Regions from separate parts of the Homo sapiens genome. Here regions 1 and 3 are each linked to region 2. Evidence: fine-mapped expression QTL. A gene starts in region 2. Each other region holds a variant in brackets. All regions are shown on one strand. Distances are between the middles of the regions.

Region 1 (10,616 bases), 87 kb after region 2:
CACCTGTAGTGCCAGCTACCTTGGAGGGGCTGAGGTGGGAGAATCCCTTGAACCTAGGAGGTTGAGGCTTCAGTGAGCTGTGATCACACCACTGGACTCCACCCTGGGTGACAGAGTGAGGCCCTGTCTCAGTAAATAAATAAATAAATAAATAAATAAATAAATAAATAAATAAATAAATAAATACAGGACTTTACATATGTATCTATTATGTTTTCTTTTTTTTTTCCATTCCAGTGGATTCCACTGTCTTATTAAAAGCCCAAATTATTCTTTTTTTTTTATTATACTTCAAGTTTTAGGGTACATGTGCACATTGTGCAAGTTAGTTACATATGTATACATGTACCATGCTGGTGCGCTACACCCACTAACTCGTCATCTAGCATTAGGTATATCTCCAAATGCTATCCCTCCCCCCTCCCCCCACCCCACCACAGTCCCCAGAGTGTGATGTTCCCCTTCCTATGTCCATGTGATCTCATTGTTCAATTCCCACCTATGAGTGAGAATATGCGGTGTTTGGTTTTTTGTTCTTGCGAGAGTTTACTGAGAATGATGATTTCCAATTTCATCCATGTCCCTACAAAGGACATGAACTCATCATTTTTTATGGCTACATAGTATTCCATGGTGTATATGTGCCACATTTTCTTAATCCAGTCTATCATTGTTGGACATTTGGGTTGGTTCCAAGTCTTTGCTATTGTGAATAGTGCCGCAATAAACATACATGTGCATGTGTCTTTATAGCAGCAAGATTTATAGTCCTTTGGGTATATACCCAGTAATGGGATGGCTGGGTCAAATGGTATTTCTAGTTCTAGATCCCTGAGGAATCGCCACACTGAATTCCGCAATGGTTGAACTAGTTTACAGTCCCACCAACAGTGTAAAAGTGTTCCTATTTCTCCACATCCTCTCCAGCACCTGTTGTTTCCTGACTTTTTAATGATTGCCATTCTAACTGGTGTGAGATGGTATCTCATTGTGGTTTTGATTTGCATTTCTCTGATGGCCAGTGATGGTGAGCATTTTTTCATGTGTTTTTTGGTTGCATAAATGTCTTCTTTTGAGAAGTGTCTGTTCATGTCCTTCGCCCACTTTTTGATGGGGTTGTTTGTTTTATTCTTGTAAATTTGTTTGAGTTCATTGTAGATTCTGGATATTAGCCCTTTGTCAGATGAGTAGGTTGCGAAAATTTTCTCCCATTTTGTAGGTTGCCTGTTCACTCTGATGGTAGTTTCTTTTGCTGTGCAGAAGCTCTTTAGTTTAATTAGATCCCATTTGTCAATTTTGGCTTTTGTTGCCATTGCTTTTGGTGTTTTGGACATGAAGTCCTTGCCCATGCCTATGTCCTGAATGGTGATGCCTAGGTTTTCTTCTAGAGTTTTTATGGTTTTAGGTCTAACGTTTAAGTCTTTAATCCATCTTGAATTGATTTTTGTATAAGGTGTAAGGAAGGGATCCAGTTTCAGCTTTCTACATATGGCTAGCCAGTTTTCCCAGCACCATTTATGAAATAGGGAAACCTTTCCCCATTGCTTGTTTTTCTCAGGTTTGTCAAAGATCAGACAGTTGTAGATATGCGGCATTATTTCTGAGGGCTCTGTTCTGTTCCATTGATGTATATCTCTGTTTTGGTACCAGTACCATGCTGTTTTGGTTACTGTAGCCTTGTAGTATAGTTTGAAGTCAGGTAGTGTGATGCCTCCAGCTTTGTAGGCCATTACATAATGGTAAAGGGATCAATTCACCAAGAAGAGCTAACTATCCTAAATATATATGCACCCAATACAGGAGCACCCAGATTCATAAAGCAAGTCCTGAGTGACCTACAAAGAGACTTAGACTCCCACACATTAATAATGGGAGACTTTAACACCCCACTGTCAACATTAGACAGATCAACGAGACAGAAAGTCAACAAGGATACCCAGGAATTGAACTCAGCTCTGCACCAAGCAGACCTAATAGACATCTACAGAACTCTCCACCCCAAATCAACAGAATATACATTTTTTTCAGCACCACACCACACCTATTCCAAAATTGACCACATAGTTGGAAGTAAAGCTCTCCTCAGCAAATGTAAAAGAACAGAAATTATAACAAACTATCTCTCAGACCACAGTGCAATCAAACTAGAACTCAGGATTAAGAATCTCACTCAAAACCGCTCAACTACATGGAAACTGAACAACCTGCTCCTGAATGACTACTGGGTACATAACGAAATGAAGGCAGAAATAAAGATGTTCTTTGAAACCAACGAGAACAAAGACACAACATACCAGAATCTCTGGGACGCATTCAAAGCAGTGTGTAGAGGGAAATTTATACCACTAAATGCCCACAAGAGAAAGCAGGAAAGATCCAAAATTGACACCCTAACATCACAATTAAAAGAACTAGAAAAGCAAGAGCAAACACATTCAAAAGCTAGCAGAAGGCAAGAAATAACTAAAATCAGAGCAGATCTGAAGGAAATAGAGACACAAAAAAATGCTTCAAAAAATTCATGAATCCAGGAGCTGGTTTTTTGAAAGGATCAACAAAATTGATAGACCGCTAGCAAGACTAATAAAGAAAAAAAGAGAGAAGAATCAAATAGACACAATAAAAAATGATAAAGGGGATATCACCACCGATCCCACAGAAATATTATGTTTTCTTTATTTTTCAGTCAGCCACTCAGTGGAGAGTGAAGAAACCCCACTTAAGCTTGTTTGAGGAAGAGGAAAATCTGTTGCTTCAGGCATCTGAAAAGTCCAGGGGATATGAGTATCAGGTATAGTTTGGTCTAGGCACTCAAATAATAACATTAAACTCACTTCCCATCCCTCTTCTTCTCTTTCAGCATTTCAGCTCTTCTTTTCTCCTGATTGCCTTCATTCTCAGGGAAAGATTATCCACATGGCAGCTTCTGGCACTAATGCCTGTCTGAGACCATCCTGTTACTCCCAGTAAAGCTAGGAGTGGCTATTCTCAGAACACTGGTGTACTCCTGGAATAATTGCCTTTCTGGAAATCACATTGTAGCTTATTCAGAAGCACTTTTAATAGAGATATTTGGAATGACCCTGGGCGGAAGTTTATCAGAACCTGGAGCATAGCAGCAATACCTGGAGATTCTATCGAAAACAGCAAGGCCAGCACAGTGGGTAAGAATGGACTGTGGACAGGAACAGAGGAGGAAGCTCAGTCAAATGAATTGCTGGGGGAAGGAAAATTATATGCTTTGAGCACTTTTTTTTGATGGGCATTTCATACACAGAGGCAGTTAAAAGTATGTGCTCTGCAATCATAGCCCTGCTGGGGATATATTAGGCGGTTGATCTTGAGTGCTTCTTAAACTTTAAAGTACTGGGAATCAAGGGAGGATCTTGTTAAAAGGCAGATTCTGTTTCAGTAGGCCAGGGGTGGCGCTTGAGACTCTGCGTCTCTAACCAGCTCCACGGGGGATGCAGATACTCCCGGGATGCAGATGCAGATGCTGCAGTGCGTAGAACATGCTTTGAGTACCAAGGACTTAGCTTTTCTGGGCTTTAGTTGCCTTACATGTAAAATGTGGGTATCAGTGCCTTCATCATAAGAGCATAGAGAGAATTAAATAAGAATGTAAAGAACTTGGCCAGGTGCAGTGGCTCAAGCCTGTAATCGCAGCAGTTCCGGAGGCCGAGGAGGGCGGATCACCTGAAGTTGGGAGTTCAAGAGCAGCCTGACCAACATGGTGAAACCCCATTTCTTCTAAAAAATATAAAATTAGCTGGGCATGGTGGCACATGCCTGTAATCCCAGCTACTTGGGGAGGCTGAGGCAGGAAAATCTCTTGAACCTGGGAGGCGGAGGTTGCGGTGAGCTGAGATCACACCATTGCACTCCAGCCTGGGCAACAAGAACAAAAGTCCGTCTCAAAAAAAAAAAAAAAAAAAAGAATGTAAAGAACTTTTAAGAGCTCTTGACACGGTGTAAGCACTCAAAAAATGCTGACTATTCTTTCTGAAGAATGGAAACAGTGAAGGTGCCATCATGAAGACTGAGGGTACAAATGCCAGGTGCTCTGTGTGGGGCCTGATGCATAAAGAGCTCTGGGTGAGGACTTCCTATGTACCCAGCACTTGATACTCTTTCTCATTCAATCCCTCCTAACTCTCTGAGACAGATACTATCATCCTTTACTTTTGATAAATGTGGAAACCAAAACTTAGGTTTAAAAAAACTGTCCAAGACCACAAGTTTACCAAGCAGCAGAGCTGGGGTTTAAACCTAGGTCTTGTGGCAGCAAAACTTGTGAATGTAGTTATTAACCGGCCCTCCAATAATAATTGTTACTGTTATTATCTTATTAAGTCCTCATGACAAAAGTGGATTTTTATGCCCATTTTACAGGAGAGGAAACTGAGTTGTAGGGACTATAGTAACTTGTCTAAAGTCGCTTGCACAATCTTCATCCCTTTCTCATATACAAGGTTGACAGGGAGGTGGTGACATCTTTTGAGGTGGCCTGAGGGTGGCACATGGGCCAGAATTTGGGTTCTACCCTCCCTGTTATAGACCCGTGTTTTTCATGAAGGCTCCTGACAACAGCTGAACAGGCATCCATTGTCCTCCTCACTCCACAGGGATGGTTGAGAGAAGCCCTCCTTTCTCCACTGAGGAACTTTGTGCCAAGTCACCTGCACGTCTACCCTACCTACCCCTGACCTGAACTCAGCAGGACAGCACAAAGAAAGCATGAAGAACTTTGCTGCACTGCTTTTGGAAAATATGCTAACCCCTAGCATAACCAATCCATCTTAAGAATGAAACAGCAGCGATTGATGGAAAAGAGTTGTACAATTCCGGGGCGCTCAAAGTGATGGAAGAAGCTATTGAGGATGATGTAAGTGTCAGGTTAGTTTTTCTAGGACTTAGACTCTGAGAGGGAGATGTACATGCAGGAGGTTTACTAGGGAGACTTTAGAGTCCTTACCTGTTGGGGATAAAGGCAGAGTTGAACTGAAATACCGGGCCTCAGCCTATCCCACAGGGATAGCTCTGGAGCTGGAGTGGCCCAAGGGAAGGCCTTCCTTGACTAGTCACTGGATGCAGGCTGTCCCTGAGGAGGGTGAGACCTTGGGTGGGGAGCATCTCTCCAGCTGAGTGCAATGCCTGGCCACTCAGCAGCGAGTCATGACCCACCAACCTTCCTAACATCTGGGGGCATGAGTGTTTCCACTCTGAAGTGGGGAGCTGGGACTCTGAAGTGGGGAGCTGGGACTCTGAAGTGGGGAACTGGGACTACAGCATCCACAACAGCACATCAGATGGATTATCAAGGTGTTGAACTTGGCAGCTTTGTACGGAAACTATAAATCTTGTTTTAAGAATAAAATACCCTACTGGCAAATCCAAAGATTGTTTGGGGAACAGTAATGATTTTCCTAATGATAGCAACTAGTCAAGGAGGCCCCATAGTCCTGTCCAACCCTAAAAGTTTTCTAACTCAATTATTGGTTGAGAATGGAAAATAACACAAAAGCACCAAGGAGGTATTGTGGATGAATTTTTTAGCACAAAGTGTTTCATCCATTTCTGCCTATTTTGGATTTCCTATTTCCAACCTGTACCAAATGTGCTTGCGTACACATACACACGACTAACCTTAAATATGGCTTCCTTTTAGAGACATAAAAAGCTCATGAATCAACTCCAAAAACATTTGCCCAGACTTTCTTTGAAAGGTGCAGATGAATGAGCTTGACAGAAAACTTTTTGCTTGAAATTTTCCCTTTCTCAGATTGCATAAATTTAAGGGGAAAGGCTGCCAAATGTTCAATGACGCTCAGCGTGGTGGCTTCTGGCAG[G/A]GACACTCTGTACCAGCAGCTAAATGAATGTTTCCCTGAATCACTGACTGACTTATCATCCTTTATCACCTGCTCTGTTCCCCTTTTTCTGCATTGAGGCTTTCTAAATGACGTGGGGAGGGGAAGTAAAAAAAAACTTTAGAACCACAAGACACTGCATATTGATGTTGGATATTGAGAATTCTTCTGGTGTTAATAGATAGGATTGCAGTGAGGAGCACGAGGCTATCAAAAGCTATCTTCAAGCCTAATGTGGGCAAGACCCGTCAAGCCCCAGTGCTACAGAGGATCTGGACATTTTGGGCTGTAGCTTTGTATTAGGAAACTTCTTGTTTGTGTTAGGATTTACCAATGAATTGGGTCATATAATTCCCTTTTTGAAACCCTTAAAATGAACTCAAACCCCCTAGCCTGGCCTATTAATAATAGGTTCTACTGAGCCTGCCTTCCTCCGCCACCTGCCTTCCAACCTCATCCTAAACTGTGCTCACCCTCACTCCCTGTGCCTCAGCCATACCAACAAAATCCTTCAGGCTCCTCCAACACGACAAGACAAGGCCTTTCCAGAGTCACAGCCTTCAGCCCTGCTGCCTGGAATGCTTTTCTCGCAGCATTTCCATGGCCAGTGCCTCCAGGTCGGCTTAAATGTTACCTCTTTAGAGAGGCCTTCCCTGACTATGATCCTCCACTTTTATTCTCTATTCTCATAGAGTACTTTTGGTTTTCTTCACTGTACTTACCTATGAGAATTTGTGGCCATTATTTGCTTGTTTATTTCTTATCTCTTTTCCATGCTAGACTCCACTCCCTGAAATGGCAGGGACAAAAGCTACCTTGTTCACCACTGAAAACCCAGTGTCAGGCACACAGTTTGTTACTTGAATGAACAGTGTTTCACCCAGAGCCTAAGTCCTGTGCTCTCTCATTTAAAAAGGAACACTTATTTATAGATTTTTAAATGAAGGCTTTGAAAATATGGAAATATCTCACAGACATGAGATGGGAGACGTACGTTTTTAGTATGAGGACATTCTAAACCCCCATCACAACTAATGGCTCCTTCTTCTCTGTCCTCAGGGAGAACAGCTTTTGTTTTAGTTGAGGTATAACTTACTGTAGTATATGGCACACATTTTAACTGAATTTTACATGGGTATACATCCATATGGAGATCAGGATCGAGATGTAGAATATTGATGGCACATTGGAAGGCTTCCACATGAGAGGGTTCCTCTCAGGCAGTACCATTCAAAAGGTAGCCACTGTACTGTGACAGGTCCCCCAACAGGTTACCGAAGGGTATAAGTCTGTTGCCTGAACTCTGAGGGCCGGACAGTGAGCCAAGACCCTGGTGCCGAGCTGAGGAGCAGGTGTCCCTGAGAAGCCAAACCTCCCAGAGAGTTTCTGAGGAACTACCAAGAAAAACAGTCTCATTGTTCAAACACGTAGGCAAAGAGCCAGGAAATTAGCTTAAAAGCAGTTTATGGATGGGAGGTGGGGCAGATCTCCAGAGCTATCCTGCCGCCATCCCAGAGTGCCCCGTATGTAAGTCCTAATAAACTCATCTACTCCTCATGCTGGACTTAGGTCTGAGTCCTTCTTTGGACTCTTAGCACTTTTTTTAGTTTGGGGGTGGTGTTGGGGGACCTTACAGTCCTAAGTGTTTTCATAATAGCCACTATTATTTCTATTTATATAGGCCAGTTTTGACTTTCTTAGCTTGCTAAAAGGAGTCATATACTATGTATTTTTTTCATGTCTAGTTTTTCTTTTTTGCTCAAAATATGATTTTGCGATCTATTCATGTTCATATATGTACCACTAGTTTATGTGTCTTATTGCTTTGTGACATTCCTTTGTGTGAGGATAGCACAGTTTATTCTATAGTTGAAGGACATTTGGGCTGTATCCAGTTAATGGCTATGATGAACAACTTTGCTAGGGACATTATTGTACAAGTATTTTGATAGATGTGTGCACTTGTATCTGCTAGGTGCATGCCCTGGAGTGAATTGCTCCCAGAGGCATGTTAGCTTTAGCAGATATTACCAAACAGTGCTGTGAAGTGAGCACCAGTTGACACTCCACCAGTGGTGCATGACAGTTCCCCTTCCTTCATATCCTTACCAGAACTTTTTATTTCTCCAGACTTAATTTTAGTCATTCTGATAGATCTGTGTAGTAGCTCTGAGATTATCATTTGCTTTTGTCAGATAAGCAATAAAATTGAGCATCTTTTGAATGCTAATGGGTCATCTGGGTATTTTGTGTATGTCTGTGTGTATGTGAATTGCCTGTATGAAGTGCCTTTGAAATTTTTTGATGATCAAAGAAATGGATTGTCTGTTTTCCTTATTTGTAGGGTTTTCTTTTTACATTTTGGATATAATTTATTTTACAACTACATGTGTCTCAAATATCCTTTTCCAGTCTGATGCTGTCCCTTTTCATTCTCCTAATACCCATCTGATGAACAGAAGCTCTTCATTTTAATGGCATTTAATGTATTAATCATTTAGATTATGATAGTGCTTTTCTCCTGAATAATAATTTTTTTGCTAACTCAGGTCTCTTATAGTGCTTTTAACAAGAGAATAGAGTGGGAAGACATTAAAAGAGGTTTTTAGTACACTTGAAATGGCTTTTAGGACCAAGATGTTGAAACATGGCAATAAAACAGGGAGCTCTCCCAGTTCCTCTTATCAGAGGCCAACCCTGCCCTCCAGGCCCTGCTCAAATTCCCCTTCCCCCAAGAGAGGGCTGCCAACCAGCTTCCCCCACTTTCAGGAAGAGCCTAGGTATATGGGTTAACCCCATACGTTGGGGACTTCTTAGAAAAACTCTAGGTTGAAATGCAGTCCCCCACAATTACCCCTCAAGAATATTCAACTCAGGTCGACAACACAGAAATTAAACCACATGGACAAAGAGTCATTCACCAGATATATTTGAAGTCTAAGCTCTTTGAGCTATACACGTGCACAAATGATTCAGTTGGTGGAAATCTTCCCCTTCCCCTTCATTGTTAAAGTTTTCAAACTTAAAATAGTGCTAAAGAGATTTGCATAATGTGCGTCATGGAAATGCTGAGGCGATTCTGACTTTCACAGTGCTAGGAGGTTCCCTTGCAACACTTCAAGGAGTCTTTCCATTTCTTATCGTTCTCCTAGGAAAAGCCCCTCTTTTCCCCCCTCCCCAAACCCAACCTAGTGAAAGAATTACTTGATCTGAGACAGGTTAACATTGACACAGAGCAATAAGTTTTACTAAGACTAACTCCAGAGGCCATACACTTCATTGTGTTTCTTTTATGACTACACAGAATGGTCATTTCAACTTTTACTAAGTTGTTAAAAATGTCAGATGTGTCTTTTAAAAAACATTTAAAAATCATTTTCAAATACTTTCTCTCATCTAGATTTCTTTAGAACCTGCATTCTGGAAATTCAGGGTAGCTTAAAAAATCAAGTCAAATGACCCACAGATGATTGAGAAGAGTCAGCTTTGAAAGGCTGGATGCTGCAGTGCTCTGCATCTGAATAGCGGAGCCTACTATTTCTTCCACTAGAGGACACCATTTCTCCACTACTAAGTCTGTAGTCGTTTATCATCAATGAAAAACCAAAAACCTCCACAGCAAAGGAAAGTCAAAGCATATGCTTATTGTACACTCCTCAGATTTTATTTTTAAAAGGAGTTTTCATTTTCCTTATGGAAACTCAGGATTTTACAAGCAATGCTCTCCTCAGTTTCACCAGTACTGTGTCCAGTACTATATTGCTATATTCACAGTAAAACGGACTTTAATTTCTGAGTGATCAGTCTATGTTTTAAGTTTCTGATGAAACTAACATACACCTTAGTCAAAAACCACAACAATCCCTCAATCTGTTTGCTGTGTTATTGTTCTTGTGTGTTTTTCTGAGGCTTGGGTAATGAAAGTACTTCCCCACTCCATTGTAATCTGCGTTTGCATCTAAAGTAATTCATTAATGTACAGGAGTAGATGAGGCCTGGCACACATAGCAGAAGGTAATGGTTCTATAGGTGTATCTTCTGTAATGCACTTTGGGCTAGAGAAATAGAAAAATCACACGTAACAAAAACAAATAACTTTTTTGAGCACACGGGTGTCGCGTGAGTAGGACCGGCATACATGTAGCTATCATCCTTCCCCATTTTAACATGCTCAGCTGCTGCTGCATTCTGGGGATTTAGCTTCATCCCAATAATCTACAACTGACACTTGCATCTTTATTTAAAAACAAGTGGTCTTGATAGCAAAGATGTTGGCTAATCATGTATATATTGGCATTAGATGTTTTGTGTCCTTTCAAAATTCAGCATTATCCTTATTAGAGTGTAATATTATCAGAGTATCTGTATTAGTATATGAAGGCATTCATAAGCAATGCACATTATGTTTTGAAGCAGCTAATTGTCGAACAATCACTAAATAAAAAACATCCAGATTTTTTAAAAGCACAGCTGAAACATTTGTACAAATATACAAAGAGAGAAAACAATCATTCAGACACCATGAAACTTTTGTAATAAATAGGTTTGTCTGAAATCAGTCTCTATCACCCTGGACAAGCCTCCCCAACGAGGCTGGGAGAGTTCTACAGGGGAGTGGTGTTTGAAATCTATTGAGGAATATCTTTGGGGCCAAGGTCAATTTTGCCTCCAGGAATTTCAACAGAGCTATGGTGTATTGACTCACAATAGTGAATATACCCAGACTTGTTGAGCTGGAATATTCTGATC
Region 2 (10,616 bases):
GTGTGGCGATTCCTCAGGGATCTAGAACTAGAAATACCATTTGACCCAGCCATCCCATAACTAGGTATATACCCAAAGGATTATAAATCATGTTGCTATAAAGACAAAAGCACACATATGTTTATTGCAGCACTACTCACAATAGCAAAGACTTGGATCCAACCCAAATGTCCAACAATGATAGACTGGATTAAGAAAATGTGGCACATATACACCACAGAATACTATGCAGCCATAAAAATAATGAGTTCATGTCCTTTGTAGGGACATGGATGAAGCTGGAAACCATCATTCTCAGCAAACTATCGCAAGGACAAAAAACCAAACACCGCATGTTCTCACTCATAGGTGGGAATTGAACAATGAGAACACTTGGACCCAGGAAGGGGAACATCACACACCAGGGCCTGTTGTGGGGTGGGAGGAGAGGGGAGGGATAGCATTAGGAGATATACATAATGTAAATGACGAGTTAATGGGTGTAGCACACCAACATGGCACATGTATACATATGTAACAAACTTGCACGTTGTGCACATGTACCTTAGAACTTAAAGTATAATTAAAATATATATATATATTTTTAAAAAGTTAAAAAAATAGTTTAAGCAAAAAGATAATTTACTGAGTCATGTAAAGTGAAAAGTCCAAGGATGGAGCTTCAGGTTAACTTGGACCCACGTGCTCAATGTCATCACGTGTTGGACTCCAGCTCTTGGCTTTGCTTTCTTCTCAGGTAGACTTTCCCTTTACAGTGACAATGATGGCCACCAGCAGCTTCAGTGATTGCTAAATAGGTAGATTATCAACAATTGCCAAATAGGTAAGCTTATACTCTACCTATTTAGCAATTGTTGCTGAAACAGGGACTCTTTCCCAATTATTTCAACAAAAGTTTCAGAATTGAGTCTTTATGGCCTGGACTGAGGCATGTCCCCATCACTGAACTAATTCATGTGGTTAATGGAGTAAAATTGGCTCCAAAAGGCCAAGTTTGAGTCAGGCTTAGGGTGACCAACTCACCCCGATTTGCTTGTTGCTTTTCTGATTTTAGGATTAAAAATCCCATGTCCCAGGAACCTCTTCCATTTGGGACAAACCAAGATAGCTGGCACCTTAGGAGTCTGCCCCGTGGATGAGGGGAATTAACAGTCAGCCCCATCTGACTCCCATAGTCAAAGAATGAAGGTGGGTTTGTCTCTTGGAGGAATTGCCAGAAGGAGGAGGAATGAATGCTGGGCAGGCAAAAGCAAGAGAGTAATGTCCTCTCCATTCATTTTCTTAGATTAGAGGCACCTTGAGGGCAAGGAATTAATCTTACTTATTTTTGTATCTTTTGAAAAATTGAGCACATTGCTCTCCACATAGGAAAGCCTCAAAAGAATTTATACTGATTCTTTCACAGCTTTATTAAATATTTGAAAAAATTCCTTTAGAGTGAAGGTCTAACACAATAGTTCATGGTGGTTAATACAGAATCATTTTTTAAAGGAGCACTTAAAAATATTTTACAATCTTAACTTGATTGAGATTATTCCAATATAATCTTACTGAAAATGGAGTAGGTGAAAAGTTTTCACCAAAGGAACTTTCAAAATCACTAAAATGCAATGATTCATAAGGTCCTTTTCCCCTGTTATATTTAAGATAAAATCTGTATTACTTAAACATCTAATTTATATTAAAAAGTGAACCTTAAATACTCTCCTTGACATTCAATTATTTAGTTTCAGTTGTGTTGTTGTTTAATTAGAACTGAGCAGTGGACAGGAATTGTTTTTCTTTGGGAAGCGTGTGGCTTTTGCTCTGAAACCTTCTTCCTGTAACTTCTAACTTCTGACCTTCTCCTGGCCAGCAATGAGTTATACATCACAATTAGGAGTATAAAAGAGAAATAATTGTATAGAGAGCTATGTCTTAAATTTTGAAAACAGGATAAGATTTTTAAAATATTTTGTGTTAATGAATAAATGTTCAGTCTTGAGCGTAGTTCATGGGAGAAAAAGAAACTGCCTTTGACATGCTGCTTCCAAATCTGACATTGCCCCATAGAGGCAAATGCTCTAGTTGTACTTAGTTTTTGTGTATTGATAAATAATATTTCTATACATTTATAGGGCAGATGTGATATTTTGTTACATGCATTGAACGTGTAACAATCCAGTCAGGGTATTTAGGGTATCCATTACCTCGAGTATTTATCATTTCTATGTGATGGGAACATTTCAAGTCCTGTCTTCTAGCTATTTTGAAATATAAAATACATTTAACTATAGTCACCCTACTCTCCTATCAAACATTAGAATATATTTCTTCTATCTAACTGTATGTTTGCTCAGTCATTTCTCTGTGGGGTATATTCATTTGTAAATAATAAGTTTAGACTATTGCCTCTAATTCATTTCAATCTCTAACATAAAATGGGTTTAAAGGCTCTCTATATTTCCAAAATTTATATAAAATTCCCTTTGCAAAAGCTGAGCTGAAAGAACATTATAAATGAATATTATTTTGCCTACCTAAATAAAACAACACTTATGCCTAAAAATCACATTGTAAATAAGAAATTTATGTTACTATTATGTTTTCTTTTATTATCATTAAAGTTCTACAATGAAACTATAGTGAACTTTGTGGCCGGCTTCCCAGCACCCATTCCAACTCATTTCCATTGAGAAAAAAAGTAAAGTTTGGGTGAGACCTCAGTTTAAGATGTGGACTGCATTGGTCTACAGGTAACCATATCCTTTGCTGGCTTAGATTTGGATATGTGACACAATTCTGTCCAAAGTGATTAAAGGAGACAGTTGCTGAAGACTTCTAAGAGACAGAAGAAATCTAGACGTCATTTCTATCACCCAGTGGAAGTGAAAAATGAATTACATGGTTCCTGTTGCTGCTGGTAGTTATATTTACCACTAAAGGAACCAGAAGTCTACTCTGTTAAAAGCCAAGTGTAAAGCTGCAAAGAACTGAGTACATTATGAAATCGTTGAGTTGCTAACTCAACCAGTCCTGAAGTCTGCCTTACCTCTGGACTTCTTGTTCCACAAGACGATAAATATCCTTACTATAACAGGATTTTGGTTGTGGTTGAAATGGTAAATATATAGAGGATAACAAAAGTTTAGGGCCAAAGGTCCTTATGTGTCATTTTGTCCCTCTGTTCCTGACCACTTTATCTTACAGAGCAAGAGCCCAGGTGGCATGAGACTCCCTAATTTAACCCAGCCACACAGGCAGTAGCAGTGGATAAAGAGAGTCCTCTCCTGATGCCCATCCAGCTGCTATCTTCACCACACATCTGACCTAGATGGCATTCAGTTTTGTCCACCCTTTAAGCATACATATGCACCTACTGAATGAACAAACAGGATATGCACAATACCCCCAAATGCCACAAAATTTAAGTTCTGCTAATCTTAAATGTTATGTCATTGGACATTACCTAAATTCCCCCAAAACTTGGCCTTACCCTGACTATTGTTCAAATTGGGGTACTTTTTTGGTCATAATGATAATAATCCCCAAAACAACATGTGTCAGATACTGTGCTGAATACTCTACTCGCTTTCCTCATTCATTTGATAGTAAGAGGTTGGTATTGTAACAAGACGCGTTTTGCAGATGAGGAAATGAAAGCTCAAATAGGTTGAGACACTGGCCCATGATTGCTCTGCTGGTGAGTGACAGAGTGAGTATTCAAACCAGGTTCTAGGGTCTGCAGGTTCTAGGGATTCAGCTACAGACCCACTACCATCCCCTCCAGCTCTGAAAGCCCATGGATCTAAGATGCCCATATTCACCAATGCACAGGCCAACCTGAGACTTAAAACTGGAATTAATTTATCAAGGCACAAACTAATAATCAACGGAATACATCTATTGCCAAATCATCTCCATGGCTGCTTCCAGATTGTTGGTAATAGCTATACTGTAAGGTTCAGACCAAGGGGACCAACGTCAGAATTTGTTATCTAAGGTCCAGTACTGCAGTTTACTAATCCAGGTACTGGATTTACAGCTATTAAATACTTAACACTTGAGGATATCACATGTGATTAATATTCTTAATTTATTTGTACTTTTTATTTGAGCTGGAGATACAGTAGTGAACAAGAAAGAAAATACCTTCTGGAGCCTGCATTTTAACAAGCGGGACAATTAAATTCAATAGTGATTTAGCAAGTACTTCTATACCAAGTTCTGTTTGGCACTACAGATAAAAAGAAAAAAGATGCTATCCTCTCACTGCCAAGTGTGCCTGGACAACCCAACTGTTAGCGAATAATTCTACTTCTGTTTGGTAACTGCTCTTTATGTTGGAAAGTTTAGTTACATTATTCTATTAAATAACCTTCCAATTAAAAGCAGGAGCACAATCCCACATACGCGTCTGTCAAAGTAAGCACCCATTTCTCAGCTGTAACTCATTACTGGTTCCCTGCCGCAGGCACTGTGCTGCTTTTAACCTTACTTGTAAACTATTACCTAACTTCCCCGGTAAAGGTGCTCGCTTATCCAGTAAGACGGACAGACGTCTATGGTAGATCCACGTTTCATTTATCCCAACTCACTGGAACTGGCTGAAGCTTCTCCAGACTTGTGCCGGACCTTGGTGCAGCCAAAGTTGCTTTCTCCGCGGCCACCTAAGCTGCCAGGTGCACATTAACTAAGTGGCAGAAGGCCATCGGCTTGGCAATTGCCTGAGGCCTTTCCGGGACTCGCTGGTTTTTAGGTTCCATGAAGGGCATCCAGATCTAGGATGATACGAAAAGTGCGTGGTGGGAGAGTGGAATCAACCTCTACTCTTAGGTCCGATACAACCCCTCCAAGCACCTGTCTAACCAATCGGAAAGAAAGTTACATTCAACGCTGGTTCTAGCATCCAATCCAAGGACGTGTTTCAGACTCTGCTGCCCGGTCCCAGCCAGCCCTGAGCTGGCGCCTTAGACGCTCGCCTGGCAGCTGCGCACACTCGGAGCGCCCCGAGCGGCGCAGATAGGGACGTTGGGGCTGTGCCCCGCGGCGCGGCGCCTGCCACTGCGCAGGCGCCTCAGGAAGAGCTCGGCATCGCCCCTCTTCCTCCAGGTCCCCCTTCCCCGCAACTTCCCACGAGTGCCAGGTGCCGCGAGCGCCGAGTTCCGCGCATTGGAAAGAAGCGACCGCGGCGGCTGGTGAGTACGCGCCTCGCGCGCTCGGCGTTCTGGGGGGCAATGTCACCCCCTCTCCAGTCCCCTAGGGGCTTTGAAAATAGAGATGGTGAGACCAGACCCTATGACCCACTCTCCCCCACTACACGCACATCCCCTGGGGCGCGGCGGGGACGTCCACGAAGGGACTCAAAGAGCCAGGGAGGTGGCGGGCCGAGGCGGAGGCCAGGAAGGGAAGAGGAAAGAAAAATTAGCAGGTGCTGGGGAAGGCAACCTGTGGTGTTAAGTGTGAAGGGAGGGAAGTCAGCCGAACGGTAGTGGAGGAACCTAAGGTGGGTCTGGGGTAAAATTGAGGGGAGCTGGGGCGGGGTCGCCAGGCTTTTGGTTTTAAAGGAGAACCACCCATGGCATCGACATCCGTCTGTCTGAATATTAGATTAGAGTTTATGTTAATTATAGATAATGATATTTAAGAACTAATTTCCTGGAAAACAAGCCAACCAAACAATAAAAGGTACATTTAAGTGCCTTTTTAAAGGGCTGGATTAAAAGCACGTAAGGACTTAAAAACAATGCTTCCTTTTCTTGTCACAACCACCCTATGAGATCATAGCATTCCCATTTTACAGATGACGAAAGTCAGGCTCAGAGAAGTGAAGGGACGCGTCCAACCAAGATTGTACAACTAGTGACAGGCAGATTCAGGTTTACACCAGATCTGACTCCAGAAGGGCTTTGCTTAATCAGGCAATCTTGTGGACCCAAGTCTGAAGGAAGATTTGCCAACTACTGTGAAATATCAACTGCTGGTTTCAGTATTATGAGCTTCTATTTCTTCTTTTTTCCCCTCAGAGATTGTTTCAATCTGTTTTAAGGAAATTAAGAGGCCTGCTGCACTTGTGCGTCTTCCCCCCACCTCCACTTAAATTAGTTACAGGATATAATTTGGAAGACATTTTTTTTTATGGTCTCAGGTCTTAGATTTATTTATTTATTAATTATTATTATTATACCTTAAGTTTTAGGGTACATGTGCACAATGTGCAGGTTAGTTACATATGTATATATGTGCCATGCTGGTGCGCTGCACCCACTAACCCATCATCTAGCATTAGGTATATCTCCCAATGCCATCCCTCCCCCTTCCCCCCACCCCACAACAGTCCCCAGAGTGTGATGTTCCCCTTCCTGTGTCCATGTGTTCTCATTGTTCAATTCCCACCTATGAGTGAGAATATGCAGTGTTTGGTTTTTTGTTCTTGCGATAGTTTACTGAGAATGGATTTCCAATTTCATCCATGTCCCTACAAAGGACATGAACTCATCATTTTTTATGGCTGCATAGTATTCCATGGTGTATATGTGCCACATTTTCTTAATCCAGTCTATCATTGTTGGACATTTGGCTTGGTTCCAAGTCTTTGCTATTGTGAATAATGCTGCAATGAACATATGTGTGCATGTGTCTTTATAGCAGCATGATTTATAGTCCTTTGGGTATATACCCAGTAATGGGATGGCTGGGTCAAATGGTATTTCTAGTTCTAGATCCCTGAGGAATCGCCACACTGACTTCCACAATGGTTGAACTAGTTTACAGTCCCACCAACAGTGTAAAAGTGTTCCTATTTCTCCACATCCTCTCCAGCACCTGTTGTGTCCTGACTTTTTAATGATTGCCATTCTAACTGGTGTGAGATGATATCTCATTGTGGTTTTGATTTGCACTTCTCTGATGGCCAGTGATGGTGAGCATTTTTTCATGTGTTTTTTGGCTGCATAAATGTCTTCTTTTGAGAAGTGTCTGTTCATGTCCTTCGCCCACTTTTTGATGGGGTTGTTTTTTTCTTGTAAATTTGTTTGAATTCATTGTAGATTCTGGATATTAGCCCTTTTTCAGATGAGTAGATTGTGAAAATTTTCTCCCATTTTGTAGGTTGCCTGTTCACTCTGATGGTAGTTTCTTTTGCTGTGCAGAAGCTCTTTAGTTTAATTAGATCCCATTTGTCAATTTTGGCTTTTGTTGCCGTTGCTTTTGGTGTTTTAGACATGAAGTCCTTGCCCATGCCTATGTCCTGAATGGTAATGCCTAGGTTTTCTTCTAGGGTTTTTATGGTTTTAGGTCTAACGTTTAAGTCTTTAATCCATCTTGAATTGATTGTTGTATAAGGTGTAAGGAAGGGATCCAGTTTCAGCTTTCTACATATGGCTAGCCAGTTTTCCCAGCACCATTTATGAAATAGGGAATACTTTCCCCATTGCTTGTTTTTCTCAGGTTTATCAAAGATTAGATAGTTGTAGATATGCGGCGTTATTTCTGAGGGCTCTGTTCTGTTCCATTGATCTATATCTCTGTTTTGGTACCAGTACCATGCTGTTTTGGTTACTGTGGACTTGTAGTATCGTTTGAAGTCAGGTAGTGTGATGCCTCCAGCTTTGTTCTTTTGGCTAAGGATTGACTTGGCGATGCGGGCTCTTTTTTGGTTCCATATGAACTTTAAAGTAGTTTTTTCCAATTCTGTGAAGAAAGTCATTGGTAGCTTGATGGGGATGGCATTGAATCTATAAATACCTTGGGCATTATGGCCATTTTCACGATATTGATTCTTCCTACCCATGAGCATGGAATGTTCTTCCATTTGTTTGTATCCTCTTTTATTTCCTTGAGCAGTGGTTTGTAGTTCTCCTTGAAGAGGTCCTTCACATCCCTTGTAAGTTGGATTCCTAGGTATTTTATTCTCTTTGAAGCAATTGTGAATGGGAGTTCACTCATGATTTGGCTGTTTGTCTGTTGTTGATGTATAAGAATGCTTGTGATTTTTGCACATTGATTTTGTATCCTGAGACTTTGCTGAAGTTGCTTATCAGCTTAAGGAGATTCTGGGCTGAGACAATGGGGTTTTCTAGATATACAATCATGTCGTCTGCAAACAGGGACAATTTGACTTAATTTGGAAGAAATTTTGATGAAAGGACAAGGAGTAATGGAGGGAGGTATTTTACTATGTAGAAAGTAAGATAAGTGTAAGTGTTTTGAAGCTGCTAGAAAACTTTGTGTATGCTAGAAATTTCTGTGTATTTTACAAAATTGGAGAATAATTTAGAATCCTACGATTTTTAAGACTAAGGAATTTTTAAGGAGTATATTTTTTTCCTTAGACTATAAGAAAGCAACTGATAATAATCTAAAGATAACTGCCTTATTTATAGTCATAGAATAAAGTTTTTAAAGGTGTATGAGAGTTTCATTGTATTACAGAGCAGATGGCGTGCTAATAGTGACAAATATCTTTCACCATATCCTGTAATGGTTTATACTCTCTTGGCTTCACATGGGCTAGGAATGCCAGTGAGAGTTGACTGCATTCCATCCAGGGAAGAACGTCTTCCCAGAGAAATTAGAAGGTAGTTTGTCCCCTGAATTGAAGACTAACTCATACTTCCATTTGTTGTAGGGATATTTGGTTGCAGTCCAGAGAGGTCTGCTTTTTTTCTTCTCTTTGACATCTTTTTGGTGTGAAAAATTACAGAATTTCTCTCAATGTTTTATACTGTAACAGTTTCATTCCCTGCAAACTTTATTTTCATTCCTTGGAAACTGCTTGAGAACTTCTCATTGTTGGTTTGTCTGTAGCTTAACACTCCCTATTAGAATGAGACAGAATGTGGCAGACATGGATCCGGCACTGCTAATAAAAGGTGTTCTATCAGGAAGAGTTCTGTTAATAGTTTGGAGATTATTATCAGACTTGTTAACTTGCTATTACTGGACTTGTAAACTTATTGAGGACATGAAATTAGTAAGAACACAGTGAAGCAACTGATTGCTTTCTGAGCCCGGCTAATCACTGGACTTTAGCTTCATCATAAGCAAAGTCATATGCAAGGTCATCATATGCGAAGAGATGAGACTAAATTATTCCTAATGTATTTTATAGTTTCACAATAATATTCTGCCTATCATAGTACAGTCTTGTTTTTTTTCCCAACATCTTTGTAACTAGAATGATAAAGGGAAACTAATTTTGAGGGCCTATTCTGTAACCTTTACACATCCTCATTTTACACACAAGGAAACAGAAGCCAAGAAAAGTTGGATCTACCCAAGATCACCCATCTACTAATTGTGAGTTCAGGTTCTGGGACCCTTCTGACTTCAGTCTATAGTCTTTCCACTTTGTCTGTACTACTTATCCTGAGAACAAGGACTGGGACGCTTGGATCCCAGCAGTGTGCTGAGGGATTACTGAGCCACAGGATTAACAGCATGTGTTCCTGGAGCATCCTTTTAACTCAAGATTTGAGGAAGAAGCATTTTGATTTGTGTTTTGTGGGAGAGGACGGACACAGGTTTTTGGTCTGTTTTGCACATGGGAAGTGGTATAAAACTTTCACATTAAAACACTCAAGTGTGTATTTTGGAGTATAAAATTCACTTTTTTGAGGTAAAATGAGATCAAAAATGTTTCCTGTTTTGTGGCAGGACATTTCAGATTACAATTTCACTTCCCTCTGCTCTTTTTTAAAAAATAATATTTTATTGAGATATAAATCACACACCATTCAATTCACTCATTTTAAGAGTACTGCTTTATGGAGCTGTGCAACTGTCATCACAATCAATTTGAAAACATTTTCATAACCCCAAAAATAAACTTTATACTTACTGGCATTTATTACCCATTTCCCCCCCAACCCCTGGCCCTAGATAGTTACTATAGTTACTTTTAGTCTCTATAGATTTGCCTGTTCTAGACATTTTATCTAAATGGAATCATATAATAAGTGATTTTTTGTGACTGCGTTCTTACATTTAGCGTATTTATCCAGGTTATAAAATGTGTTAGCACTTCCTTCCTTTTTGTGTCAAATAATATTTCATTATATGGATATATTACATTTTATTTATCCATTCATAAGTTAGTGCACATTGAGATGTTTCCACTTGATTCTTACAAATAATGCTGCTGTGAACATTTGTGTACAAGTTTTTGTGTGGACATATGTTTTCATTTCTCTTGAGCACATACCTAATAGTAGAATTGCTGGGTTATATGGTAGCCCTATGTTTAACCCTTTGAAGACTGCCAGAATATTTTCCAAAGTGGCTGTACCATTTCACATTTCCAGTAGCAGTTTATAAAGGTTTCAATTTCTCTATCAACACTTGTTGTTATCTATTTTATTTACTCATCCTTCGGGGTGTGAAATGGTACCTTATTGTGGGTTTGATTGCATTTCTCTGATGACTAATGCTGTTGAGCATCTTTTCATGTGCTAATTTGTCATTTGTGTCTTCTTTGGAGAAATATCTTTTTCAGCTCATGCTCATTTTTTGACTGGATTATCTGACTTTTATTATTGAGTTGTAGCAATTCTTTATATAGTCTAGATACAAATCTCTTCAGATATATGATTTGCAAATATTTTCTTCCATTCTCTGGGTTGTCTTTTCACTTTCTT
Region 3 (10,616 bases), 47 kb after region 2:
CAAACATCAGGCCTGATTACTCTTTCAGAAAGCCTTCAGTGCTTCTTGTGTGTTAGTGCCCCTATTTTGTCTTTTTCCGTACTGTAGTGGATTATTTTCTCAGTTTTTTTGGGATAATCAATGGCATTTTTAGGCCTGAGGGAGTGTAGGCAGGTACTTAGTTTGCCAGTATGATCCCAACTGTCTTTACCATAAATTATAGCAGTGATATCAAACTACCCTGAAAGAATTTGTCCATCTACACAATCCCAGCTAGAATTCTGACCTAATTAGAATTCTAGTTCTATCTGCAGTAGGCAATAATATCAGGTTGATTGTTACAATGTAAGTTTAACATCTAATTAGCTGGTAAAACTGGGAGCATATCTGCAATGGTGGTTTTGGCTCCTGCCCGGAGCTCGGATCCCTTGTCTGGTGTGCTGGAGCTTTAAAGTGAATAGAGATATCTGTTGATATTTAATTAAGCCATGCAAACATTTTGGTCATAGCTTTTTCTCTGTCTGCTTCTAATAGAGGGACAATCTCAACCCCAAACATTGTTACCTCCTAACTGGGTCATCCCATCCCGAAGGGCATCTGGGCACTCTTCCATGGCCTTTTATTCGTGGTAACTTGAGTTTATGGTTTTCAACACGTGGGATGGGGATTAAGAGGGAGGCTGGTTTCTATGTTTAGTGAGACCCAAACACAATGAAGTTGAACAAGTTGTTCCAATTCCCCAAAGCCCTGTCCTTTGAAATTGCCCAAACTTGGAACAGAGTGGTCCAATCTTGTAAGTCCTTGTCCCCCAGAATAGGTCAACTCTGTGCTCTCCCAAAACACTCAAAGGACAATGTACGCTTATCAGAGAGCAGGAGTGGTGAAAATGGGCCTGACTTTTGTTCGGATCACTGAACATTGTTGGACTCTGTTTGGATGACAACCTGCTTTGCTCTGCAAATTTTATGGAAGTTATGATTATATTCACCAGCTATTCCTGTGAAATAGGCATGGTACAGCTGGTAACCACAGTGCACAACACAGAAAAGTGCTCATAAGACTGCCAGATTCCTCCCAGAAGTCCATATAATGATATCTAATGTTCACCTGATAGGCTTGCTATTACCTTATGTTGTTCATGGGGAGAAAGTCTGGTTTACATAGTATAGAGGAATGAATGTAAAACATGAGATTCCTGCTCCCACATCTGCACCTGCCCTCCTGTCTTATTGTTGCCTCAGTATCTGTCTATTTGCAATAGGTTTTCAGAAAGTTTTAGCAGCAGAAACCACAACCTGCTATTGACTGTAACTATTCTTTTATTCTCTGTTATTAAATTAGTGGAATTCTAATTGAATAATAGTGTAACAGAATAACCAACTTCTTTCTTTCAAAGGTTTTGGGGTCAGGTGGGGAGGGAGATCCCTCTGCCTCCCCAAGGAAGTCTAATACAGGTTGAGAGAGGGACAATTTTCTTCGTCAGGGGCTGGAAGAGCTTTGTGCTAAAACTGAAAAGGGATCTGTTCTTTAAGAAACAACCAGAACTGGCTCTACCACAGAAGTCTTGTTTTTCAGAACTAGACTTCATGATAGGAAAAATAAACACATAATTTTACAATTAAAAAATTTTAAAGGTGCATTCCAGTACATTATACCACAAATGACTAAACTAAAAGAAAGTTCATCTTTTAATCCTTTGTAGAACATTCTGCAAAATGTGGGTCTCACATATTCAATGGCCATAGATAGGAACCACTGGGATTCTGCTTCTGCACTGCTCTTAATTCATGATAAACAGTGGTCTTCACTAATCTTGACTCATTAGCAGAAGTTCAGTCCAATGAGTGAAATGTTGAATTATAGAATAGTCAAAAACTTAGCCCAAGAATTTTTATGCATATTAATAAATTAGGCTTCTAGTGATATGCTTGAACTAATTAGAATGAATTTTGTAGAAGCAATTATTATGCTTTTATCCTCAGAAAGCTTTATATAAGTCAAATATAAACCTATTTGTATTGTTGTATTCTGTAAATTGTATTCATAGTGTTTTAGTTCTAGGACTGCCTTAACAAATTATCACAAACTGGGTGACTTACGACAAACAGAAATGTATTCTCACATAGTTCTGGAGGTCAGAAGTCTGAAATCAAGATGTATTCAGGGCCATGCTCTCTCCGAGACTCTGAGAAGAATCCTTGCTTGGCCCTAACAGCTGCTGGGGATTCTGGTATTCCTTGGCTTGCTGCAGCCTAGCTCCAATCTCTGCCTCTCCTGTCACAGGATGCTCTACTCTGTGTGTCCCTGTGTCACGTGGCCTTCTTATAAGAACACCAGTCATTGGGATTAAGGCCCTCTTCAGCCCAGTATGGCTTCATCTAAATTTAATTACATATGCAAAGATCCTACTTCCAAATAAGGTCACATTCTGAGGTTCCGGGTGAATGTGTATTTCGGAAGGACACTTATTCAACCCAGTATATATAGCTAGCAGAAAGTTTAATTTTATGGCCCAGCCTAGATCAAAAGTTGATGGATTACTAATAAAATGGCTCAAATCAAGGTAACTGACAACATCTGATACTGACAAGGATTCAGAGCTATAATATATTGCTGGACTATCATACACTGCTGGTGGGAATGGACTTCCACTATGGAAGTCAGTTTTGAAGTTTCTTATAAAGTTAAATATACACGTGACATACAACCCAGGAATCTCACTCCTGAGTATTTATCTAAGAGAAATGAAGACAGACGTCCACTGAAAAACCGGTCAACAACTTTTTACAGCAGCTTTATTCATAATCATGTAAAGCTAGAAACCATCCAAATGTCCCTCAACTAGTGAATAAACAAATTGTAGTGTGTCCGTAAATGCAGTACTGTTTGGCAGTAAGAAGGAATACAGAACTCATGCATGCAACAACATGGATGAATCTCAAAAGCGTTTTTCTAGGTGAACGAAGCCAGACACAAATGGCCATACACTGTGTGATTCTGTTTATATGATATTCTAGAAAGGGCAACAATGGAAATAGAAACCAAATCAGCATTTGCCAAGGACTAGGGGTGAGGGGAGGGGATTGGCTAGAAAGGGGCACAAAGAATTTTTTTATGTGATAGAATTTTGATTGCTTTTGTAGTCACATCACTAAGTTTGTCAATATTCAGAGAACTATGTGCCTAAAAATGTTTAATTTTACTGTGTGGAAATTATACCTCAGTAAACAGCAGCAACAATAAATAAACCCTACCCTGCGATAATACCTCACACCTCACCAAAGTTCACAAATTGGTGCTGGTGGTGTTTGACTCTCAGTGGCCTTTCCTGTGTGTACGGGTGTATACCAGTTCTTCCTGCAGGGTGTGAGTGCTTGCAAGTGCAGGAGCTCCACGGGGCCTGCTCTGCTGGGTGTCATTCCTTTTCCCTCATGAATGAAGTCAGGAAACTATGAAGTAAAACCAAAACAAGGCTAAACAATTATTTTCTTTTTCTTTTCTTTCTTTCTTTCTTTTTCTTTTTCTTTTCTTTTTTTTTTTTTTTGGGATAGAGTCTTGCTCTGTCGCCCAGGCTGGAGTGCCGTGGTGTGATCTTGGCTCACTGCAACCTCTGCCTCCCAGATTCAAGCAATTCTCCTGCCTCAACCTCCCGAGTAGCTGGGATTACGGACACGCGCCACCACACCAGGCTAAATTTTTATATTTTGCGAATCACAAAGTCAGGAGTTCGAGACCAGCCTGGCCAACATGGTAAAACCCCGTCTCTACTACAAATATTTTCTAGGCCATAACTGAATGTCATTTGTTGAATAACTAACTCAGTGCAGGATGCAGTCATATAGCAGGAGAGATAGTCATCTTTTGGTGTTGGTTTGAGGCCTATTTTGTAAGACATATTCTCAGGAGCCAAATACGAAACTGCACATGTGTTTGTGGTATATGGGGTGAAAACATTTTGTTAAAACCACATTCTCAGTTCTTTGTAAAGCACATAACACCCCTTAGATGCCTGAACATACTTAGTTTAACATCACTATTTAAAAACTTATTGGCTCCTTATGGGTATTGTAATTCTGTAAATTTACTAGCAGTGGGGGAGGACCTAAAAATATTGTCCTCTATCCAGATCAAAAATACATTTTTCCACTCTAGGTATTTGCACTTAAAATGTAAATGTAAATATTCTTTGCAACAATTTTGTAGCTTGAGGTTGCACCAAGGAATTCTTTGGTAAGTGTGAATCTTTATGAACAGGCCAAGCAGGCAGCAAGTGCTTTATGCCTTTAAGGTGTTCTTGGCAGGGAAGGGGCGGGGGATGTCATGGGAGAGTTCTCCCTGCCCAATTCCTGGATGGTTGCAATTTCATAATTGGAAATTAATCTCTTAGCCTTAAGGCTTTTCTCTCAGGAGAGATGTCATATGCACCACCTCTATTAGCTATTTATATACACGTGTGTGACTAAGGTTGTCTGATTCGCTCCAATTTGCATAATTGGTTGGGGAGAAAAGCCCTTAGAAGAATGCAGGTGGGTTCTGTCTTTCAAAGGTTAGTAAATACAGGGGGCAGCTCTAGAGGAAAGTGAAAACAGAAAAAGGAAGGGGAGCAGACTCTAAGCTGGCATCCCTCATAATTTGCTCAAAGCTAGTCCTGTTCTTTGCCCATCATTAAGCAGCAGATCACTGTAGGGAAGTCCGAAGTCATAGGCAACAGAGGAACCTGGCTTATGAAGGTGCTCTGATTTGACCTTTGTAAAATTTTGAATAGCCTTTCATCTAGAAAATGCATGTAATGTATAAAATCCTTGAGAGCTTTGCTATTCTTCTAGTCACTTTCATCCTTACTCCTCCACACCTGTTGTCTGATTCCACAAAGGACTCCATCCTCCCACACCTTGCTTGGGCAATCTCCTGACCTATATACTTCTCTGCTTTCTAATGAGAACCCTATTTTGTAGGAAAATCCATTCAGTGTGAATGGATTTATGCTGATCTACTCATCTATTCTTGCTAGGACATACTACATGTTGGGGTTCTTTGGCCAGAGTTAGCTGTTCTAGTCATGGTGATGGGGCTGTTTTAAAATAACAGGCTGATTTAACCCGTTATTTTATTTTATTTTATTTTTGAGATGGAGTCTCCCTCTGTTGCCCAGGCTGGACTGCAGTAGCGAGATCTCAGCTCACTGCAACCTCTGCCTCCCAGGTTCAAGCGATTCTCCTGCCTCAGCCTCCC[G/A]AGTAGCTGGGATTTTAACCTGTTATTTTTTAAAAAAACAAAACAGGTTTATTCGTGATTTGCTTAACATAAAATGAAATGTGATTCATTTAATATAAATTTATCGATTTGAATTATACAATTCAGGGTTAACTGGCATTTTAAGGCCTCATTGGCCTGTTTCAACCAAGTGATGTAACTGAGAATGATCATCTGTGGAATCACTGAAATGTTCATTTATTCACAGGGTAATCATTGAGTCATGATTCTATTTTACACTCATATTGTGCTGCTGGTTTTTGAAATCCATTTTGAAGATGGTCAACAGCATTACTGAGTTCATTTCTCATGGCCGCACACTATGCTCAGTGAGAATTGGTGGCTTAACCAAAGCTGCATATCTAAACATTTGAAATCAGGGAAAAATAGAGTAAGTTCTACAACAGAGGAACAAACAAAAGTGATATAGAAGTGCATGGGACAGAGAAATTAGCTCTGACTGAAGAAGACATGGGTATTCCACCACAGAGGTAGGAATGGAGAGTCTGGTATTGAAGCAGAGCCTTGGAAGATGGTGGGATTTCAACGAAGCACGTGAAACAGAGAAGACTGTAAGAACATGCACCTGGTCAGAGGGCCCAGGTGTGCTTGTGAAGGGCCTAGAAAAACTGGTTTAGGAATTTGGGGTCAGTCCTGTGGGCAGTGGGGGGCAGTTGAAGGTTCTTGAGGAGGGGCATGTCATGACCAGAGCCACGAACATAATTCCTGAATCACAAGTGGTGCGAGGTGGCACAGTAGTTTAGCACCTTGACATTTATTTAATATCAATCTGTAATTGATATTAAAATTAACGTTGCTTCTTTGACTATCTCCTTTGGCAGGAACTACCAGTTGTCATACCATACCAAGGCTAACCCATTCTTATGACCTTTCTACTGAAAAATGTAAAGCACTTTGGCTTTTTGTTTACTGCATATTGAGAGGCAGTGAGCATTTCTCTTCTTGTTTCTTCTTGGCAACATCTATTAGCCTGTTCCTAATGCACTGTGTGGCATAGCTTATTAGGTTGTGTTTTTGGTGTTACCCCAATTTTGGGATATGAATCTGTCATTAAAACACAGCCCTGTGAGTCAGAAAAAATAGACATGTTAGTGTGAATGAATGTATACTTTCTGGTCATTTTGAGAGGTGACATCATTGTCATATACTATACTTTTTTTGTAATATTTTGTTAATCACAAAGTGAATAGTGAAGGGGATGGTGTGCAAGACAAGGGAAAATGTTGGAGGGGCATTTCAAAACTTGCCAGAGTGTGTAGTATAATTTCATTGAAAAAAATGATAACAAATCAACTCCACTAAACAACTGTATGTAGGAGTAGGAAGAGTAGAAAAGAGATGGGTGGCAGAGAAACAATTTTAAAGCCAGAAAAATGGTCTGTATGGGTGGTGAAGGTATTATAGTATGAAAGGAGTACATAACAATATTACTAGAATTATAATAACAATGCTTATTAATTAGTGGCAACCAAATAGCAGACACTGTGCAAAGCAACACATACTCCTTATGTCACTTAGTTCTTATCATAACCCTGTGAAATACAAATGAGTCTTTTCCTATGCCAGCTCAGGAAAGAAAATCCCAGAGAGATTAACTCACTGAAGATCACTCAACTAGTAAATAGCAGAACTGGACTGCTCATTAATCTCAGTAAGACCCAGAGGGGAACACGAGAGAGACATTCTGGGGACAAAGTTGATCTTCGGACTGACACAAACTTAGGTCCATAGAAACCATGCCCTGGGGGTTACTGACAAGTAGTCTGTGGACTTCATGTCAGAGTTGGGGATTCCAGATTCTCCAGGAGGTCCTCAATGGTAGAATCTGAACAGTGGAGAGCACAGTAGAGGAGTGTCTAAGCCCAGTTTTGGATCCATGAAGGGAAGATTTAGTATTTTGACAGCCAGTGGAATAACTCATTTCTATTATCAGGCCATGTGGGGATAGGGAGCTCTCGCAGCCTCTTCCTTCAACAGTCAGTAAACAGAAATGGTGTGAGAGAGACAAGCAAACAAGACTGGAGTTGCCATCCAGAGATGGGCACCCCTGTGATGGACATGGACCTTGGTATTAAAATGACCTTGGTTGAGGATGGCTGCTCAGTATTGAAATAAAAGGTAGACAGACTCATGAGTAGGGATTTGAAAACCTTGAAGGGTGGTTTATAGGAGGAAGCATGGGCATCAATAGTCAAGGCAGCATGATCATGACAGAATTGAGAGAGAGAGCCCTGGACTGCCTAAGTGAGGATCAGTCAATTCCAAACTATTTAATACTAAGGTGAGTAGCTGCTGTGATCCTAGCCCTGTGATGGGAACTGAGAAAGGTGGATACAGGGAGGAGTAAGATATACTTCCTGACTCCAAAGGGATGGAAACACTGCTTAAAGAGATGACACAAATGCACATGAAATCATTACAAATGGAAGAAAATTGTATTAAATCAAACACTAAATTGATGCTTTTTGAAGGTCTCATTTTTGTTTGGGGAAGAGTTATCCCTCCAATGTCTGAATGCTCAATAACATTCTGCCTTCCCAGTTCACCCTATTTTCATTTCCCTCTAAGCTGCTATGGGCTTTTTTCTTTTAGGAGATTCCACTACTAATGAATGCTTTGAAGAAATAGTATTAGTTTAGAGAGGAACAGTGGTGGTCACAGGACTGTCTTGGGAGGGGTTTTAGGCTACCTCCCATAATCTTCTTTATCACTTGTATAAAATCTCTATATAGAGCTTTGGGCAGAGCTTCGAGCAGCACACTTGATTGTCCACTTTGTATGGAAGGAAAAGTGACCTTAGGTAGCAATAGGTAGTGGCGAATGATTTGGCTAGTTTGTTCAGGGCCTGGAAGGACCAGAATGGGAAGAGTGAGGACAAGGAGGCAGGGGAAAGAGATATGTGGGCCCTATAGTTGGTGGGCACCAAGCATGCAGATCTGTCTGTCTTGTGGTGATGCCCAGCAAGCCTCTTTTGCAGAAGGGGATCTCAACCATCAGGTGGACAGGATGAGTAAACCTGTGGATGTCAGCCAACATTTCTTCCTGGTTATTGCAGTACCAGTGCAATTTGGCATTCAACGGTGGCAGGAATAGAAGTATGCAAACACCTAACAGAATGGGATTCAGTTCACAAAGGGCTTATCTAGCCAGTGCTGAATGTCAGCCTCAGAGACTGATGCTAACCCCTCAATTGAGGAAAACAGCAGCAATTTGTCCTTACCAGAGGTTACATCTACACCAAGTATGATTCAACACTTCAGCATGCCTGATCTATCAATATGGGATCTCACAACATTTCCTCAAATAGGGGACCAATTTTGCTGCAAAGGACATACAACAATGATTACAGGATTCACTGGTTCCACCATATATCCCATCACCCAGAAGCAGCTGGCCTAGCTGAATGATGCAATGGGCTTAAAGGCTCAGCTAAGTGGCCCTCTCCGAGAACACATTCTGAAGGTTAGAGCATGATCCTCAATTTTGGGGTATATGCATTGAAATAAGGACTGATACATGATGCTCTATCCTTAATGGTTAGAAAACAGGTCTGGTAACCAAGGAAATAGAAGTGATCCCTACATGATCATCCCCAGTGACCTATTTGTGAAATTTGTTCTTCCTGTCTTCTAACCTTAGGCTCTGTTAGGTTAGAGAACATCGTTCCCAGTAAGGGCTATGTCTCCACCAGCAAAGTGAGGATTCTACTGAATTTGAAGCTGGGTCTACCACCTGGCCATCTTGGACTCCTCATGCCAGTGGATCAGAAGGGAGTTATAGTAATGTTGGGGTAAGTAACCTGCTTTTCTTGAGGGGAGAGGGTTGATACTACATAATGGGAACAGAGAGGAATATGCTTACTTGTATATCTTCTATCTCTTTATTCTTCTGATTGCCGAGAGATTGCCTCTTTGTCTGATTTTCTAATTCACAAATTTATTCTTTAGCTGTTTCTATCCTTTCTTTATCCCACCTTTGGTGTAGTTTTTCAGCTATTATACCTCATATATTTTCATTTTTAATGATTTTTTATTCTTCTTCATATTACTAATAGCTTGTTACATCTCTTTAAGTATATTTATCATGTTTACATAAAATTCTTGTTCTATCTCTTTTAACACTTTTGTTTCAAATGGTATATCTTAAAGATTTTTGGATTTTTTGAGGTAGTTTTAAATTGCATTATTATTTTGGATTTTTAATTTAGATTTCTCTTTAAATGTTTTAATAAGTAGTGGGGAAGGGCTGAAGGCCAGGTCCTAGCCTAAGCTAAGTTATCCTGATCCAGTTAAGGATAAGTGAGGGTCTAATGCCTGAAGGCAGATGCTTATTCCTATAGACTATCTTGGGCAGATGCTTATTGCTATAGACTATCTTTCAAGATTCTCAAACTCCTATCCACAGATCTTTCCGCCATTTAAAATTAGTTCTTGTGTGTGGTGTGAAATAGAGTGTAAGTGCAAATAGGAGTCTAAGTTAAAGAAAAAATTTTTTAATAGCCAATTGTTCCAGTACAATTTTTAAAAGGTATTTTATTTGCTTTTAAATTGCTTTGGTTCCTTTATCATAAACAATTTGCTTTATAAGCATGGATCTATTTCTGGCCTCTCAATTCTAGCTCATTGACCTGTTTGTCTGTCTTCTTATCAATACTACATTGTCTTGATTACCAAAGCTTTGTAATAAGTCTTGAGGTGAGGTAGTGTGAGTTCTCCAACATTGCTCTTTCTCAAGATTGTTTTGACTATTTTAGGTCCTTTGCCTTTTCATATAAATGTTAAAATCAGCTTTTCTATGATCCTTTTTCTATCTATTATTTTTCTATAAAAATGCTGGTCTGGCATGTAATTGGGATGACAGCAGATCTACATACCAATTTAGGGAGAACATTCAAGCTTACAATATTAAGTATTCTGGTGCATGAACATGGGAAATGACTCCAGTTTTCAAAATGAGCAAATTGAGGTTTAGAAAGCCTAAATGATTTGATAGAGTTATAGACCTGAAAGCAGCAGAAGCTTTTTAAATCTATTTACAATTAATTGACTCACCAGAATGGCCTACACTCTTCTTTTCCTCTGCAAATCATATTAACTACTACCCCATGGCATTGTAAACTTTTTTGGCTAATCTATTTCTGTCTAACACGTCTGCTTCTGCCAGATAAATTTTAGACTTATCTAGAGTCAGTTGTGTTTTTTCCAGTATCTAGTTTTTGAAATAGTGTTTGTTGTTAGAATTAAATAATTTAAATAAAATACATTCTAACCTAGCGATTCCATTTTTGAAAAATTTATCCTGTCAGAGATGCACAAAAAGATTTTGGTATGACAATATTTATCATAGTCTTAATACTAATACTATTT

Evidence for each region.
Region 1: its variant is fine-mapped to the expression of ENPP4 in tibial artery (GTEx, PIP above 0.99).
Region 3: its variant is fine-mapped to the expression of ENPP4 in whole blood (GTEx, PIP above 0.99). The same link has a PIP of 0.9 or more in esophagus mucosa.

Annotation. Positions count from the first base shown.
Region 1 is chr6:46,211,957-46,222,572 of GRCh38, forward strand. RCAN2 (regulator of calcineurin 2) reads right to left here. Exons shown (of 5, transcript NM_001251974.2): 5 at 8,780-10,616. LOC105375079 (a long non-coding RNA gene) reads left to right here and starts at 7,349. Exons shown (of 5, transcript XR_001743802.3): 1 at 7,349-7,394. The variant G/A (reference allele first, on the strand shown) is at 5,850.
Region 2 is chr6:46,125,013-46,135,628 of GRCh38, forward strand. It overlaps ENPP4 (ectonucleotide pyrophosphatase/phosphodiesterase 4), which reads left to right and starts at 4,977. Exons shown (of 4, transcript NM_014936.5): 1 at 4,977-5,177. It also overlaps a transcript of CLIC5 not described here.
Region 3 is chr6:46,171,777-46,182,392 of GRCh38, forward strand. No RefSeq gene overlaps it. Among named protein-coding and RNA genes, the nearest start is that of ENPP5, 6.1 kb to the left of the region's middle. The variant G/A (reference allele first, on the strand shown) is at 5,212.